2 separate regions of the Homo sapiens genome follow, and region 1 is linked to region 2. Evidence: fine-mapped expression QTL. A gene starts in region 2. The other region holds a variant in brackets. All regions are shown on one strand. Distances are between the middles of the regions. Region 1 holds the start of GDF9 (growth differentiation factor 9). Region 2 holds the start of SHROOM1 (shroom family member 1).

The links.
Region 1: its variant is fine-mapped to the expression of SHROOM1 in whole blood (INTERVAL, PIP 0.90).

What each region holds. Positions count from the first base shown.
Region 1 is chr5:132,863,764-132,868,763 of GRCh38, reverse strand. It overlaps GDF9 (growth differentiation factor 9), which reads left to right and starts at 2,295. Exons shown (of 2, transcript NM_005260.7): 1 at 2,295-4,627. The coding sequence starts at 4,231. UQCRQ (ubiquinol-cytochrome c reductase complex III subunit VII) reads right to left here and starts at 2,122. Exons shown (of 3, transcript NM_014402.5): 1 at 2,077-2,122; 2 at 1,729-1,895; 3 at 1-1,276. The coding sequence starts at 1,882. The coding sequence ends at 1,182. RefSeq lists enhancers at 1,784-2,284, 2,285-2,785, 1,644-2,843. The variant G/A (reference allele first, on the strand shown) is at 1,917.
Region 2 is chr5:132,827,442-132,832,955 of GRCh38, reverse strand. It overlaps SHROOM1 (shroom family member 1), which reads left to right and starts at 2,309. Exons shown (of 10, transcript NM_001172700.2): 1 at 2,309-2,362; 2 at 5,349-5,495. RefSeq lists silencers at 2,001-2,420, 2,631-2,940.

The DNA of each region.
Region 1 (5,000 bases), 36 kb before region 2:
TGGCCTCCTGGCACAGAAACAGAAAACTGCTGTGGAGGCTAAGAGATCACCTCATCCGTTTTATAGCTGATATCCCCTCAGGCTAAGGCCTGCCTTAGGAGGAAAGGCAGTAGAGCAAGCTTGTCCAACCGCAGTCCTGGGCAGCAAGCAGCCCAGGATGGCTTTGAATCCGACCCAACAAAAATTTGTAAACTTTCTAAAACGCTGAGGGTTTTTTTTGCCATTTTTTAAAGCTTATCAGCTATTGTAATGTTAGCGTATTTTATGTGTGGCCCAGGGAAGCTAAAAGATTGGACACCCCTGCAATAGAGCATAGTTTTAAGAGCATCACTTTAGTGCAAGACTCCACCATTCACTGCTGTATAATTTCTGGCAAATTACTTAATCTCTCTGTGCCCATTTCCTCATCTGCCAAATGAGGATACGTTAAAGGTGCTTGTGAGGTTTAACAGTTCATTTGTGTAGCTAAGAAGAGTATTTGAGGCCCAGAGCACCATGGCTTACGCCTGTAATCCCAGCACTTTGGGAGGCTGAGGCGCACAGATCATCTGAGGTCAGGAGTTCCAGACCAGCCTGGCCAACATGGTGAAACCTGTCTCTACTAAAAATACAAAAAATTAGCCAGGTGTGGTGTCCTGCACCTGTAATCCCAGCTACTCGGAGGCTGAGACAGGAGAATCGTTTGAACCCAGGAGGCACAGATGGCAGTGAGCCGAGATCACACCACTGCACTCCAGCCTGGGTGAGAGAGCAAGACTCCATCTCAAAAAATAAAAAATAAAAGCGTCCCTGACACATACTAATTACAATATAGTTAGTAGACTTTATTGTTGCTATGGGAGCAGAGGGCCAAGAACCAGCACTCGCCATAGCCCATGTCACCCACAAATGGTTAGATGCAGGAGTACCTGCAGCTACTTTCTTGTAGATAATGGAACAAAGGGGGAGCCCTGCTCTTTCACCAAAACCCGAGACCAGGCAAAACTTCAAGACTCATGCTGAGGAGGGGCGCTTCATGAACTTGAATATTAGTGGTCACACAGGATTCTACTCACAAAAATGTAATATCACAACAGTGCAGACCATAGGAAGTTTATTGTGTCTTTGAGACACTACAATGCAGACTCCTCTTCCAGAGAAAGGTCTTTCAGAGACAGGGAACCGTCATCCGGATGCGTTGCTCATTTGTCATTTTCATAGGCAGCTGGATTCTTCCTCTTGGATCTCTCGAACTCTTCAGTCCCCCATGTGTAGATAAGATAAAACACTACAAACTCTTTAAAAATTAAGAGAGTAAACAGAGAGCACACATATAAGACATATAGAAGAAAAAAAAAGGTCTCAGTCCTCTTGTCTTCTTTAAAGCATACACTTCAGTAGTTCTTAGCATATCCAAGGCCATGCAACTATCATCACTATCTGCTGCACGTTTAACACAAAGCATTTCACCACTGGTAAGAACTAAATAAAGGTGACCTCAGAGGAACATGCTGGAATCACCCGAGTGACCTTGGGCCAGTCATTTCAGTTCTGTAGCTCAGTTTTCCCCGTGTAAGATGGGGAGGATAATATGACCAGCTTAAGGGCGGTCAGGAATATTCAATGAGAAAGGTGTGTACGGCAAGTTACAGAGCGCCTGCCCGGCCGCCAGCGCTCAGAGGGGAGGCGCAGTGACTGCTGCTGCTGCTGGGGTCCAGCCTCCCGCTCCCGCGGGCCCAAGGCACTCACGCGGCACCACGCGAAAGAAAGACTCCCGAATGCGGCGCAGAACATTGGGGATTCCTTTAGTGAAGACGTGCGGATAGGCGCGCTGCTCGAACGGTGACAAGCTGTAGCTGATCACATGCCGCATCCGCGTCAGATTCCCAAACTCGCGGCCCATTGTGGCGGCGGCCCTGCAGGACCGAGGGTGGACA[G/A]GCGCTTGGCTCGCTTTCGCGAAGCGCCGCAGTCCCCGCGGGGGTCCATCCCCAACCCCAGACTCCTGCCCCTGCACTCCTTATCCTTTCCCAGCCCAGCGGGGCGCCCCTAGCCTCCCAGGGTCCACGAACACTGCACAACCAGACCCCACTCACGCACAGGGCTCAGCTCGCCCTCCACAGTCACCGATCCGGTTGACTCGTTCGTCATTTCCGGCAAGGTTGGAAGCCGCTCTTGGAGGTCGTGAGGTAACTTCCGGGAGATACCATTTTCCTACTGTCTCTAAGGGATGACGCCTTTGTCCCAGAAAGAAGTGGGCTGACTGGGTGACCCGTAGGTGGGAGGTGCCTTGGAGGCCCTGCCCGGGCCGGTGGGGTGGAGCCTAGCGGAGGACGTCGGGGATTGAACTGACTTTGGGGGACAGTGGACAGGCGGAGGCGCTCACACTTCTCCTCAGCCCTCGGCTTTTCTGTGGAATCCCAGTCAGGAAGCGGCCGAATGCGGGAGGCGGGGGAGGGAACAAAAAGGTGACGAGGAAGGGGCCTGCCGACCTCCGGGGCAGCGCTGGCCAGGAGCTTGGGGCCTGCGAGTCTTCCCAGCTGTAGACAGAGCGCCTCTGAGCCCCGAGGCCGGGCCGCCCCACAGCAGAGGAGCACGAGGTTTCATTTGGCCTTGGCCAGTAGCTCAAAGGGGGCTTCGTTATTTTCAGGCCATGAGCGACCCCAGCACCAAAATCAGGGACACACATCGAAGGCTTCTCTTGGACTCTGTTTTAGAGTCCCCTGGCAGGCTGTTAACGTTCCCAAGAGATAATACAAACGTTTCGTCAGTTTCAGCCACAAAAATAATCAAATAATCGTCAATTGATGAATGCTGAGGCCGCCTCGACAGCAGCCAGCGTCCTCCCCAGATGGTTTGCGTGGGGTGGGGGGAATCACGATGCCCCAGTTCTTTCTTCTCCCCACGTGAGAAGCAAGGAAAGTCGGGTGAGAGGCCTTATTATGTTTTCCCTGAAGTGCATTCTGCTTGACGATGCTGTTGTCAATGTACAGCTCGCCCTGAGGTGTCTTGTCAGTGTTTTGTTAATGGAATTGCTGGCCATATTTTATCTAGGACTAAGCTCTCATTCAACAGTTGGCTGTGTTTTATAACACTACTTACGGACCACGGAGGCTCGGCAGGCAGTCAACTTGTATTTTGCAGACATACCTTAGTTTTCTCATGTAGGTACTGCACAAACTGGCTTCGTATCTTGCACTATGAGTGTAGGCTGACTCTTCCAGCATAGTCTCCTTCGGGGTGGCGCTGAATATCCCCTCATTTCAGCTTTTCATGGTGCTCCTTTGCCTCATTTTTTTAAACCATAATGTCTAGCCTGGTCTCAGCTCCAAGGCAAGAACAGAAATACAGGTAAGGACAGAAATATTGTGGCAAATTCTACCACCATTTGGATGAATAATAATAAAACGTTCATTTATTTTATAGCATCTGCAAACATCCCAAAACCTTTCAACCAAAATATGTATAGATGAGTGTGCAGACCAAAGTAAGGACATCAGTATGTTACATTTAAAAATAAGTCAAGGTTAAAGGCGGTGTCCTCTTTTAAGAACATCGCAAATACAATTCCAGTACTCCAAGTACGTATTCTGTACCCAGCCACCTGGGAGGACTGAGAGACCTAATGGTTTTCTGCTTTCTGGAACTTCTATGCCAATTGTGACTTTCTCACCCAAATTTGTAAATTCGCAAATTAACATGCAGCGAATAATTACAATTGTAAACACCTGGAAGTGGAAAAGGCCGTGAGGATAAATTGAGAGGAAGAGTAAACCTAATACCATAAGTTGCATACCAGCAGATCTGAGTATCGTCATGAATAATTGGTTAGCTTTTCCACATGCCTTAGAAGTTTCAGCAAGCACCTAGCGAACATCTTAATCCAAATTTCTCAAAAAATGAGAGATTTTATTTAAGATCATTCCTCAATTTATCTTAGACTTTCAGCTACATAGTTAGTCCGGTAGTGTAACAGTAACGGGTTTTACGTAAATGCCAGGGGAAAAGAGAGGAAAGCTAAATAACCAAGTAAATCTGTATCTAATTAACAAATTGGCTAAATAAGGTGTTATCAGCTGCTTGATATAGAGCTGATAAAATCTTCAGCTAGGCATACTTGAGGCCTGATTACAGAAGTGACCGTAGTCCACCCACACACCTGAAATTTATTTAAGAGACCAAGCTAGGCTCTTCCTGGCCTTTAGGAAGAGGACTGGCATGGAGAAATATGTTCCTCACTAGTTCTCCCAAGCCATGGCACGTCCCAACAAATTCCTCCTTTGGTTTTGCTGCTTTGCCTGGCTGTGTTTTCCTATTAGCCTTGGTTCTCAGGCTTCTGGGGGAGAAGCTCAGATTGCTGCTAGTGCTGAGTTGGAATCTGGGGCTATGCCTTGGTCCTTGCTGCAGCATATAGATGAGAGAGACAGAGCTGGCCTCCTTCCCGCGCTTTTCAAAGTTCTATCTGTTGGGCGAGGTGGGTCACCTAGGCTGCAGCCAGACTCCAGAGCTTTGCACTACATGAAGAAGCTCTATAAGACATATGCTACCAAGGAAGGGATTCCTAAATCCAATAGAAGTCACCTCTACAACACTGTTCGGCTCTTCACCCCCTGTACCCGGCACAAGCAGGCTCCTGGAGACCAGGTAACAGGTATGTGAAAGCAGATTGGTTAACTGGGTGGAGGGAAGATGATAGACACTTCTGCATTTCAATTACAGAAAGGAGCTGAGCCTAGTTCCTTGAATTGTATTTTATTTTGCATAAAACTCAATATCCAGTTGAAACAAATCTGGGACTTGAGCTTATTGTTTATTCCTAACGCTCTCATTGGTTAAGGTGGGCTAATATGATGGAATTTTAAAGCAACACCAGAGACTTAATGGCTTTCAAGGCTGAGCGGAAGTGCTGCTAGAGAATGTTAGCACCTCTTTCTGTTCCACCAAGCTTTTGGCCCAGAAATGGACCTTAAACATCTCTTACAGCTATTGGTGTGATGTGTTAAATAGGATATTTTTCTCTTGTT
Region 2 (5,514 bases):
ACGTGGGTAGGTGGGATTTCAGTTTTCTGGGGACTTAGGCAGAGAGTTGCTTAGTGTGTGCAAGAGGTGAGCGGTAGGTGGGTGGAGTGGGTTAATAAGAATCGCTCTGGACTGCATCCTCATGGTCCCTAGCAGAGAGTTGCTTAGTGTGTGCAAGAGGTGAGTGGTAGGTGGGTGGAGTGGGTTAATAAGAATCGCTCTGGACTGCGTCCTCATGGTCCCTAGCAGAGAGGTGCTGTAGTGTGTGCAAGAGGTGAGTGGTAGGTGGGTGGAGTGGGTTAATAGAATTGTTCTGGACACTGTGTCCCCATAGTTTTCAAGAAATATAAGTAAAAAACATAACCATTTTTTTTTTTTTTGAGACAGAATCTCACTCTGTTGCCCAGGCTGGAATGAAGTAGCGTGATCTCGGCAGACTGCAGCCTATGCCTCCTCGGTTCAAGCGATTCTTGTGCCTAGGCCTTCCAAGTAGCTGGGACTACAGGTGCGTGCCACCACGTCCAGCTATTTTTTTTTGTATTTTTGTAGAGACAGGGCTTCGCCATGTTGCCGAGGCTGGTCTCGAACTCCTGAGCTCAAGCAATCTGCCCACCTTGGCCTCCCAAAGTGCTGGGATTACAGGCATGAGCCACCGCCCCAGCCAACATGAGCAATTAAAAATTTTTTGTTGTTGTTTGCTGGGCTGTCTTTCTTCTATTTTGATGCTGCTGTGAGACTCTGTGGATCAGGGTCTTAAAAATATTAAAAGTCTTTCAGGCCGGGTGCGGTAGCTCATGCCTGTAATCCAGCACTTTGGGAGGCCAAGGTGGGTGGATCACCTGAGGTCACGAGTTTGAGACCAGCCTGGCCAACATGGCGAACCCCGTCTTTACTAAAAATACAAAAATTAGCTGGGCGTGGTGCCCGGTGCCTGTAATCCCAGCTACTTGGGAGGCTGAGGCAGGGAAAATTGCTTGAACCTGGGAGGCGCAGGTTTCAGTGAGCAGAGATCCGGCCACTGCACTCCAGCCTGGGCGACAGAGGGAGACTCTGTCTCAAAAAAGCAAAACAAACAACAAAAGTCTTTCAAAGCCGAAAGGTTCTTAGGCACTGTCTTAAAGCCTAGCGCTCCAGCTGAAGCTGGTGCCTGAGTCCAGATGGTGTTGAAGAAGGAGCAGGGCCCAGCGGGCACCACTCTCAGAAGTCGGGCTCAGGTGTCTCCTGCCTCCGAACCCAAGAAGACCCAAGAAGACAGAGTTCCTCAGGCTCCCAGTGTCCCTAGGAAGTGGCAACCTTGACTCTTGGCCAGAGTTCAGAGTCCTGGTTATTAACACCAATAAACCTTTATTTGCCAGGGATACTACCATGGGAGGACACAGCCCCTGAGCCCAGCCCTGTTGATCCTGTGGGAGCGGGAGGGCAGCGGAGGACAAAGGCAGAGACCTGAGAGCCGGAGAGGCTCATCAAAGGGTCCCCAGCCCCTCTCAGGAACGGAGCATTTCTTGGCAGAGTGGTATTCATAGGACAGAGTTTGGGAAGTCGGGGCAGGGGAGCCTGAGGACACAGCAAGGAGAGCTCAGTGGCAGGTGCAGGCAGAGCGTTCTTTGGAAAATGGAGATCCTGGAAGGTGAGGGCCTCGAGCGCCAGTGTCCAGCCTTAGTGGGTATGCATATGTCCAGCTCCCTAAGGACACACTCAGGACAGCTAAGGTGCACACAAGTCCAGGGGCTTCCCCGTGCTCCGCCCCCCTCTCCCCCACCCCGGTAGCAGGCTGGAGGGCCCAGACCATGCTGGGTAGTGGGAGAAATGGAAAGAAATGGGACAGGGAACAGGAGACAAGAGCCCATGGTGGGAGTCAAAGAGCTGGAAGAGTTTTGGAAATGGGGGTCTGGGGGTAGAGTTGATCAAGGGCCGAGTTACTCAGCGGGACAGGTGGGAGGCACGAGGCCCTGGCAGCTCTGTTTTCTTGGCCGGGCTTGGGGGGGAAAGCGGGTAGCCGTCAGGCGCCTAAGGGCCCGCCCTGGACCTCCCCACCGAGGGAGGTGTCAGGCCCCGAGGGACCCGGCCCCCGAGCATCACGGACGCGCTGGAGGCCGGTGGGCGGTCGCCGTAGTCGCCCTCCCACCACCTCGCTCAGGTTTCTCCGGCCTGGGGCAAGAGGCCTGTGGCCCGCGCGGGAACGCACTGTCCACCCTCAGACCTGGGACTGGGCCGGCGCGCGGACGCTACCAAGAGGCTGCGGCTCCCGCCCCCGCGGCCGGACGTGGCGCCTCCCCTGAGGCCGCGGCCGGAGCCTGGAGGTGGGGTCGGAGTCAGAGCCCGGGGCTCTGATGTCACCGCGCGGCTGCGACGGCCCAGGAGCGCGTCTCGGCGGGAGCCTCAGGTACGCGGCGGGGGCGGGGGAGCGGGAAGCGGGCGGCTGGGTCCGCTTCCCCCGGGAGGCCGGCGGGGCTGCGGGCGGACGGGGGTGAAGAGCGGGCGGCGAGGCGGTGGTCGCGGGGCAGCCCGGGCATCGTTCGGCCGGGACGTGTCTGGCTCGGCGCCGCGTCAGGTTGCGCCAGTGGAGTCGGACCCCAGCGCGCCTCTCCCAGCTGCAGAGCTGCAGGGCGGAGAGGCGGCCCACTCTAAGCTGGCGGCGCGGCTCAGGGGCGCGGCTGGGCGCGCCGCGTGTGGCGCCGGCGGGCAGCGCGGTCTCACTCCGCCACCCTCCGCTCCTGCCCTTTGTCGCCAAGCATCTGGAGAAGCCGGGTCCTTCCCTCCCGGGCTCGCGCTGTCCCCTGCGCGCGATCCTTCCCCGACGGTGAACCCAACGGGAAAGGCCCAGAACTGCGCGGGGCTGCGGCCATCTGCTGTCGAGCCGCTCCGCGTGTCTCTGCCGCCCCCTGCGGCCGCCGGGGCCTGCGCCTCTCTCCCTCCCGTGCCTCGGCTCCCAGAGATTGAACCCCAGGTAACCGGGTCTGTCCACGCCCGCGGCCGCCTCTCCCCGGGTGTCGCCAGCTTCCTGCATTTCCTGTGCATGGCACGGAGCTCGGGTCTCCAGAGACTCTGCATCTGGGGTGCAGCGACCGATGAGCCCGTAAACCAGTCGCACACTCGGAGCGTGGATGCTGCGTGGGGTGCGCTGTCAGCGCGGACAGGCTGGGAGAACGGGGGACGCTGGGGACAGGGAGAGCCGGTGAACTTCCCAGAACGTCCGCCTAGCCAGACCCAGCTGCGGGTACTGGGTTTTGAGACGTGGTCCAGTACCCAGGAACTCAGTCTGACAGGGAGACAGCGCCTACACAGTGAGCCCAGTACTGAGGGAAGACCCGCTGGGAGGGGCGGCCTGGATAGCCCCTCCACAGAGAGGTCAGATGTGAGGTGGCCTTGAGGGAGGTATGATGTAAATCCTGATCATTCGTTGTATTTGAGGCTGTCCGTTCTCCTGTGCCTCCTCGGTCGCCTTACTTGGATCTGTTCCCATTGCCTTGGTGTGATTTTATCCACCGGAAACTGTCTTCAGCTATTTCCCCAGTAACCTCTAACTAAAAACCTGGGTCTTGCCTGGTCTACCCTCCCCTGCTGAACTCCAGAGCCACATCCCAACTGCTGCCTGACTTGTCACAGACACCATGAAGCCCAGACTGAAGGAGCACTGGCCCCCTTGACAATTCCTCAGCCCCAGCTCCTCCTTTCAGACTGGTGCCTCCACCTGCCAGACCCCTAGCTTTGAAGGCCAATCTCATCTTCGTCTCCTTCCTCTCTGGCTCCTTCATTCAGGTGACAAGTATACATCAAATGCCCACCCCAACTCCCCCTCCCAGGACTCCAATCTGGTGTCTTTCTAGCGGGGAGTCTAGGTTGCTCCCTCTGCTCTGGAGAGGCTTGGCAAAATGCCTGCAGAGCTCCTTGAGCTCCACCTCTGAACTCCCTTTCAGCAGCCGGCACAGGCATAACAGCCCAGCCCACAGGTACCACTGCCACTGAGGCAGGGACCCCTAAGGTAGGGCTACCCCCAGCCACAGGGGCTGGCTGGACTGCAAGAGGCTCCCTGCAGCCAGACAAGTATGAAAATGCCTTGTTGTTTTGTGCTGAGGCCCCCCAAAACACACCAAAGCAGCTGGGCCCTCTTGGCATGGTAGGTTCTGCAAAGCACCCACTGTGAGGAGCCTGCGTGAACATCAACCTGATAGGGCCACCAGTGCAAAAGCATCTTCAACAAGTTACAGTCAATAAGGAAACACATGTGTAGACACATTTTTATTGCCCATTCAAGCTGTTTTTATTTGCTGAATTCAGAATCCTTTAACATAGTAACTCACAAATAAGATAGATTTTCATAGATTTTCAAGACCTCTTTTGAGGAAACATCTTGTGTTTGGTGATCCCCATCTGTAGCTGCAGCAAGCCAAAATGGGCAGGATGGGTGACATGAGCTAGTGCTCCCAAGCTGGACTCAGAAAGAGTAGGAAGAGAAAGGGCTAATGTCTGAGCAGTCGGGTGGGCTTCCTAGATGAGGGGACTGTCCTCCCAGGAGCTGCTACTCAGAGTAGTTTCTTGTCCTCCTAAAGTTTAGAGTGGAAATACTTTGCAAAAGAGGTCCCCAACCCTAAGTGTGAGGGCTAAGCTCCTGGGCTTAGTAGGCATATACAAATGCCCCCAGGTGGGTGACATCAAGATGTTCTGGTCCTAGGTCTGCTGAGAGCCTCTCCTGGGAATGTTGTAGGTACTGCCTTTCCCTTTTAGGAAACACCATATCCTCCTACCACTAACCCCCATCCTTGCCCTAACCAGCAATCTGTAACATCCTGGGCCTCAGGGACGTGGGTGGAGGGTGACTCTGAGCTCCAGATAGTGTCTAGGAGGCTCAAATAAGCCTGCTTTTTGGTCCTCACCCTAGCCGTGGGCCACCCTACTCTGCACTCCCTACCAAGCAGCTCAGAGAATGGAGGCCAGCGCCCAAAAGTCTCCATAGTTCATAGGGAGCCCCAAACCTCAACACTGCCCTTTCCCAAGCCTCAAAATTTCTCTTACCCTGACCCAGGCACACCCACTCAACTCTTACCCTTGATCCCCCTCCCAGGACCAGAAGGGATTGATTTCTGGTGAGTCCTGCCCCAAGCTGTGCTTGCCTGCTCTGTTCGTACCTAATATTGCATGAGGAACCTGGCCAGTGTCTATGGTGGCAAGTGCTTCACCCATTCTGTCCTCTTCCCCAGAAAAGACTAATAGGGAGGGAAGAAGCGTGCGCAGAAGCTAAGGAACTCTCTTCCTTCTCTACCAAGGCCACCCCTACATCTACTCCCTGCAAATCTGTTATTTCCCTTGACATTCAGCAAATATTTGGGGTTTTGTTTTGTTTTGTTTTGTTTTGTTTTGTTTTGAGACAGAGCCTCACTTTGTCGCCAGGCTGGAGTGCAGTGGCGCGATCTCGGCTCACTACAACTTCCGCCTCCCGGGTTCAAGCGATTCTTCTGCCTCAGCCTCCCGAGTAGCTGGGACTACAGGCGTGTGCCACCACGCCCAGCTAATTTTTGGTATTTTTAGTAGAGATGG